Homo sapiens: one gene and its partner. The protein of the gene in region 2 purifies or fractionates together with the protein of the main gene of each other region. This does not show direct contact. Each region holds a gene or a part of one and is shown on either strand. Other genes may lie near its edges.

Evidence for each region.
Region 1: the proteins of MBLAC1 (region 2) and H1-7 purify together in Homo sapiens (affinity purification with mass spectrometry; 2 studies listed by BioGRID and IntAct, with this or other methods). This does not show direct contact.

Annotation. Positions count from the first base shown.
Region 1 is NC_000012.12:48,327,372-48,330,873, reverse strand, and holds H1-7 (testis-specific H1 histone), read right to left. Parts: upstream 1,895-3,502; 5' UTR 1,583-1,894; coding exon 815-1,582; 3' UTR 595-814; downstream 1-594. UniProt on the Homo sapiens protein: Essential for normal spermatogenesis and male fertility. Required for proper cell restructuring and DNA condensation during the elongation phase of spermiogenesis.
Region 2 is NC_000007.14:100,125,409-100,129,082, reverse strand, and holds MBLAC1 (metallo-beta-lactamase domain-containing protein 1), read right to left. Parts: upstream 2,117-3,674; 5' UTR 2,019-2,116; exon of another isoform or gene 1,912-2,018; intron 1,716-1,911; 5' UTR 1,688-1,715; coding exon 887-1,687; 3' UTR 588-886; downstream 1-587. UniProt on the Homo sapiens protein: Endoribonuclease that catalyzes the hydrolysis of histone-coding pre-mRNA 3'-end. Involved in histone pre-mRNA processing during the S-phase of the cell cycle, which is required for entering/progressing through S-phase.

The DNA of each region.
Region 1 (3,502 bases), on a different chromosome or scaffold from region 2:
AAGAAATAACTCAGCAAAGGTCAGACTAGCAGAACTTTGACTAGAATCTTGGTCTTACTACATAGTGGTCCAGCAGTTTTCTGCTATAGCACATTACCACTCCATCGGGAATTAATTATACACATATTTAACTCTCAGTGATGAGTACCTATCCTATGCCAGGCCCTATGCTGGATGCTTTCATACACTTATTTAACTGAGGATTGACATAAGAATATCTTTTAAATTAAAATAGGTTATCAATTCAAGGCAAAAACTACAAACTCATTATAATCAATTTTGGGAGGACTTTGTCCTAAAAGGAATTTCAGGTAAGAACACTTTGAATCAGTGGGACCACTCAACTTAAAGACTGTCTACTCTTTTCCCAACATGCCTTCCTCCCCAGAACTCAATTTGGATTTGCTAGAGTATCTAACAATACTTCAACACTTGTTAAGCTGCTGGTTTTCCTCTGTTTTCTCTCCTTCTAAAAGACATTTCTCTGAGTTCTGCAGCAGGAACAGAATCTCAGCTAATTTACTGTCTTCACTGAACGTTACCACCACCCACCCCTTCCCTTCCAGGTGCGGCAAAGAGGAAACAGACACAAGGTGGTCTAGAGGTCCATTTCATTTCAATGAGTGTGACAGCCGCTCTTCTTGGGGCCTATGGGGGAAAGGCATTGGTCCGTGGTGGGAGTGAAGCTGCTCCCACAAGATGCATTCCCAACTGGATCAGGAAGACCTTCAGATTTAGGGGAGGTCTTTGTGGAAGTCTTTAGTGGAGTCTTCCCCTGCCCGCTAGATGTCCGGTCGGTTTTAGCCCGCGTTGGCTACTGGATGGTCCGCTGTGCGGGCTTCTTGGGCTCCTGCTTCTCTTCCCTGGGCTTGGAGCTTCGCCTCTTGTCCTTCCCTGACCTCGGCGTGGTGTCTTCCTTCACGGCCTGTCCTCGCCCCTCGTCTGCCGCTGTCGCTCCCGCTTCCTCCTTGGCTCTGGCACACGGCGGCTCCTTGGCTCTCGGCCTTGCCCTCCTGGTCCTCCTCGCCCTGGCATTGGCCTTGGCTTTCGCCCTCGCGTTCCGTCTCCACACTTCTCTGGCCTTCCTGGCCGCCTTGCGAAGGGGCTGGCGGCGCCTCCGGGAGCTCCGGGGCGCGGCTGGGGTCCTCCAGGGAGCGCGCGTGCCCTCCTCTTGCCTCGCGCGTCCCGGCTTTCTCCTGGGCTTGGGAACCTTCCAGACCCTGAAGTAGCCGGCGGCGTCGCTGCCGCTGACCCGGAGGAGCGTGGCCTTGGCCTGCCCCCTGGGCGCTTCGTGGCGGCCGCTCTTCCTGCGCACTTCGTAGCCGGCGTTTCGGAGCTCCTTCTTGAGAGCTGCCAGAGTCAGCCCTTTGTGAGTGGAGATGGCCTGGAGCACCAACTGGGACACTCTGAGCACGGAGCTTGAGCAGCCCCTCGATGGTCCCCCGACAGTTTTTTCCGCTGGCAGCTGAGTGGCTGAGTGTCCTCGGGATTCGCCACTGGGCCCAGGCGCCTCAGCCATGGCCCCACTCCCGCCTCTGCGGGGCCACCGGCTTTGGGCCTCACCAGTCAAGGCCTGTTCCATAGCTGAGGTAGACTGGGCCACGTCACAAAGGCAGGCCTGGCAGAGATTTTCAGGTCCTAATTATGGGGCTGGCATATCTCACCCGGGGAGGGGCCCTTTTCACTTATAATAACCAATCAAATGCCACTTCCTTCTAGGTCTAAACCAATCCAAGTCTTCAGCGCCTGTCCACCCCCAACAGTCACCTACCTATAGAGTCTCCAGGGTTTTGTTCCCAAATCAAACTTACTGATCTCGATCTCCACCGCTTTCTTTAGTCGGCTATTTTGTGTGTGTATGTGGTCCTGCAAACCATCTACCCACAGTTCCTTAAGGTGAGCGAAGCTGCTCCCAACTATCCAAAACAAGCAACACACTGCCTGTAGAAAGTACACGGGGTAGTCCATGAAACACAACCCAGATTAGAAACTCCCACCTTTAATTCCACCAGTCAGGTATCTGAAGTCATGTCTCCCTAATTCTACACAGTGGATTCTGTGCAAGAGCATGAAGTAAAAAAGGAACCAATTGTGTGATCCCTCTACCCTAAACACTGATTCCCACACCTGGGAAATTTAGATGACGCATTCAACTGTACTGAAACAATCTAGATTTCACATCGCCTGAGGATACTGGTCTAATCATTATTCTTTGAACATACTGTGTTTTTTTCCATCTCATCCCCTCTCTTGGATTTCTCATCCTCTTTGTCTGCCCAGATAAGTCCTGCTCATCTTTCAAGGTACTGCTACATTATCCTTCTTCACTGAAGACTCCCCAAACTCTTTCAAATGATTTCTTGCCTCTTAACTACCACAACCACCAAAATTACTTCTGCAATCTTATATGGCTTTTTCTTTATTTTAAATGAATTTGGCATTAGAGGGTATAATGTGACACAATATTTTTTAAAAAGAAAAAAACTCGTACTTGGAGCTGGAAGATATGGATGCATATCCTAGCTCTTTAGGAGCCATATGACATTAACAAATCCCTTAATATCAGTGGTGTGGCTGTCAGATGGATGTGCCGGCCATCTGACTTCTTATCTAACATCACATTCCCTTCCTACCAACATCACAGAATTATTGCAAAATTTCAGAAGAGGTAGATGAACAAGGGCTACCTAAATATAAGGAATAAATTTACTTTACTTTGAATGTTTCTGTCTTGTATTTCCAACTAAATAAAGATATCCTCAAGAGCTATAGTCTTTGAACTTCTATGTCCCATGCTGCACCTAACAATATGCTTCATTATACACAGCGGGCATTTAATTGAGCCTGCTTACATCATTCCTCTCTGGTGAGGAGAGTTTCTCTAGATTCAGAAAGAAACTTCCAGAAGATCAGGAGAAAGGAGCAGAGTGAATTTCAAAGGGTTGGAAATGAAGGGGGCCAAGTAAGGATTAGCTTATCAAGGACCTATTTTGGACACAGTTTAGTTGGGAATAATTTAAAGTATTATTCTAAGAATACTTCAAATTGCCAAGCATATCATACTTTTCCAGAGGGCAATCACATACATTCATCAGTCACAGGCTAGACAGTGACAGTTTCTTTTAAAAATCAAAGCTCCAGGAAGTAGCTTAGACCAGTGCTTTTTTTTTTTTTTTTTGAGACAGAGTCTTGCTCAGCCCAGGCTATGTAATGGCACAATCTTGGCTCACTGTAACCTCCACCTCCTGGGTTCAAGCAATTCCTGTGTCTCACCCTCCCAAGAAGCTGGGATTACAAGCATGTGCCACCACATCCAGCTAATTTTTTTTTTTTTTTTTTGAGACAAAGTCTCACTCTGTTGCCCAGGCTGGAGTGCAGTGGTGCAATCTCGGCTCACTGCAACCTCCGCCTCCTGGGTTCAAGTGATTCTCGTGCCTCAGCCTCCCAAGTAGCTAGGATTACAGGTTCCTGCTACCATGCCCAGCTAATCTTAGTATTTTTA
Region 2 (3,674 bases):
GCACTTTGGGAGGCTGAGATGGGCAGATCACTTGAGGCCAGGAGTTTGAGACCAGTGTGGCCAACATGGTAAGACCCTTTCTCTACTAAAAATATAAAAATTAGCTGGACATGGTAGTGTGAGCCTGTAATCCCAGCTGCTGGGAAGGCTGAGGCACAAGAACCAATTGAACCCAGGAGGCAGAGGTTGCAGTGCAGTCTGCAGTACAAGATTGTGCTATTGCATTGCAGCCTGTGGGGACAGAGTGAAACCGTGTTTCAAAAAAAAAAAAAAATTAGTGGGGCATAGTGGCACTTGCCTGTCATCCCAGCTACTTGGGAGGCTGAGGCAGGTGGATGGCTTAAGCTGGAGGCTGCAGTGAGCTATGACTGCACAACTGCACTCTAGCCTGTGTGACAAAAAAATATGAACAAATACATAAGTCAGGTGACTAAGGGGTCATCTTTATGCCCTGTACCTTCTCTCAGCAACCTCCATCCTATAAGAAAGGGGCAATTGGCCAAAGTATGCCTCTGCTGTAGTTGTAGATTACCATGTTTGCACGATTATCATTGTCAATGCTTCACATTTACACTAGGGCACTATGATTTTCAATGCAGTTTCCATTTTTATTTTGGAGGCCCCTCCCACGAACCTTCTCCCATTTTACTGAGGCCCAGGGAGAATGCACAGGGAGCTGAGCCCCTCCTTTGATCTTAGTTTGGTGGCAGAGACAGGCAGTGATACTGACGATGTGATGGCAGTGTCAGGTGCACTCTGTCTTCACTAGAAAACTGGCCTCCTGGAAGGGCTGGAAGCTCCCACCCTTGACTGCTCTGACTCTGTCTCCAGCAGCTCTTCGCTGTTAGGGCTTCCCTGACAAGAGTGCAGTCCCTCTCGAGGCTGATTAGTGCAGGGCGGGCTCCTCGTCTCCGACCACCGGCTCCTGCTGGCTGTTCCCTCCACCCTCCGTCTCGGGCTGCGAGGCTTCCCTTAACACTCGAAAGGGGGGCCCGTGACCAGGTACGACCACGTCGGCAACGACCAGGACCCTCTTCCGGCTCCGCTCCTGGGCTGCGGGGTCTTCACTCAGTGCCTGCCACGAATCCTCGTCCCCATCTCGCTCAAACACATCTCCCGCCACCACCACGGTGCCCAGAGCCGTGCCGGCCACCACCACGCTCACGTCGCGCTGGCCCCCGTGGCCCGGCGTGGCCCACACCTCGAGCCCCGGGCCCAGGCGCAGGGGCTGCCCCTCACCCAGCCCGTGGGGCAGGTAGCGGCCTCCGGGAAGGCAGAAGTCGTGCGAGACCAGCAGAGCCGCGCCTGGGAACAGCCCCAAGTTCCCGATGTGATCCGAGTGCCCGTGGGTCCCCACCACTAGCGTCACGTCTCCCGGGGCCACGCCCTGCCCCGCCAGCGCCCCCAGCAGCGCCTCCCGAGCCCAGGGGCCCCCGGTGTCCACCAGGATGGGGCCACGGGCCGCCTCCTCCAGGGCGGCCTCTGCGCCGCCACTCCCGCGCGGGGACTCTCGGTGGCTGGAGGCCGGGCCCCGGGTCTGGGGTAGGACCAGGGTCACGGAGCCGTCGGCGCGCACGGCATCGCCCACACCCTCTGGCTCCGCGTAGCCCTGCAGCAGAACCACCACAGAGTAGGGGTCGCCGGGCACCAGCAGAGGGGATGCCCCGCACAGCGGCTCGGTCCGCATGAGGCTGCTCCTGGCAGGGAGGGACGGGCTGGGGAGAAAGGAAATGGAGCAGTGGGCGACCGTCCTGTCCCTCCGCGATCCCCCACCCGCGCTCGGCCCCGCCACTGCCCCTAAGCCTCGGTTCTCTGCCACCCGCCTCCCATTAAGTTGGTATCACCCTCAACCCCTGCCCAAAATGGTATCGCCCAGACTCCCTTCACACTTGGGCCCGCCCCTCCCTCGGCGTCCTCGGCCCCCGCCCCATTCCGTTCGCGGTACGTACGTCCTTGCCCGTCACCCTCCAAAGGCTATCCTTTATGTTTCCCTCCATCGAATCCTAGCCGCGCTCTACCTTGGGCCTCTGCTAGGTCTTGCCTCACTCGAAGAAAGCGCAGAAATCGAAAACGCGGGTGAGAGTTTGTCCTCTGCGGTTCCCGTGTACCCAGATATGGCGGCCGAAGCGGCGCCGCGGAGGTAGCTGTAGTTCCGGCGCCTTCACCGTGTGCCCGAGGAGGCTGCCTGGCTGGGCTCCAGCCTCCTGGCGGTTCTCCGCTCCGCAACCCCAGCAACTTCTTTGCACTGCAGAATTTTGAAGCGCCATTAGCTTTGAGGAGGGTTCATGCTCAGTTGCCCAGGCAGGAGTGCAGTGGCGCGATCATACCTCACTGCAGCCTCAACCTCCTGGGCTCATGTGATCCTCCCGCCTCAGCGTCCCGAGTATCTGGGACCACAGATGCGCACCACCAAGCCCAGCTAAGGTTTCTATTTTTTCTTTCTCTTTTTTTTTGGAGACACGGTCTAGTTCTGTTGCCAGGACTGGTCTGGAACTCCTGGGCTCCAGCGATCCTCCAGTCTTGGTCTCCTGAAGTGCTAGGATTACAGGTGTGAGCCACCGCGCCTGGTCTTTTTTTCTTTTGAGACAGTCTCGCCCTGTCGCCCAGGCTAGAGTGCAGGGGCACCATCATAGCTCGCCCCAGTCTTGAACCCCTGGTTCTAGCGATCCTCCTGCTTCAGCCTCCTGGAGTGCTGGGAATACAGGCGTGCACGCCCCTCTAAATTTTTTTTGGTTTTTTTTGAGACGGAGTCTTGTTCTGTCGCCCAGGCTAGAGTGCAGTGGCGTGATCTCAGCTCACTGCAACCTCCGCCTCCTGGGTTCAAGCGATTCTCCTGTCTCAGCCTCCCGAGTAACTGGGATTACAGGCGCCCACCACCATGCGTGGCTTTTTTTTTTGAGACGGAGTCTCGCTCTATCACCCAGGCTGGAGTGCAGTGGCACGATCTTGGCTCACTGCCAGCTCCGCCTCCCGGGTTCCCGCCATTCTTCTGCCTCAGCCTCCCGAGTAGCTGGGACTGCAGGCGCCTGCCACCACACCCGGCTAATTTTTTGTATTTTTAGTAGAGACGGGCTTTCACCGTATTAGCCAGGATGGTCTCGATCTCCTAATCTTGTTATCCACCCGCCTTGGCCTCCCAAAGTGCTGGGATTACAGGCGTGAGTCACCGCGCCCAGCCGCCCGGCTAATTTTTGTATTTTTGGTAGAGACGAGGTTTCTCCATGTTGGCCAGGCTGCTCTCGAACTCCTACACTCAGGTGATCCGCCTGCCTCGGCCTCCCAAAGTGCTAGGATTACAGGTGTGAGTCACTGCGCCCAGCCTCCAGGCTGGTCTTGACCTTTTGGACTCAAGTGATCCTCCCATCTCCACCTCTGCAGTAACTGGGACTACAGGCGCTGCACCACCAGCCCTGCAGTCTTCTTTGTGTGTGTGTGTGTGTGTAGAATTGGGGTTTCACTATGTTGCTCAGGCTGGAGCTTGAGCTTAACAAGACAGCGGCCATTCTGGGTGCTGCCTCATCGACCAGCTAGCTATGTGTGCCCGGCTGTTGTTTGAAACTTTGGGCCCAGCTAGTTTTTAGAAAAAAAGAAAAAAGTTTAATAGCGATATAGAAAATTGAGCACCTATAAAACTATATGGTGGGCTCTGGGTTACATTGAGCTTAAGTAGACCA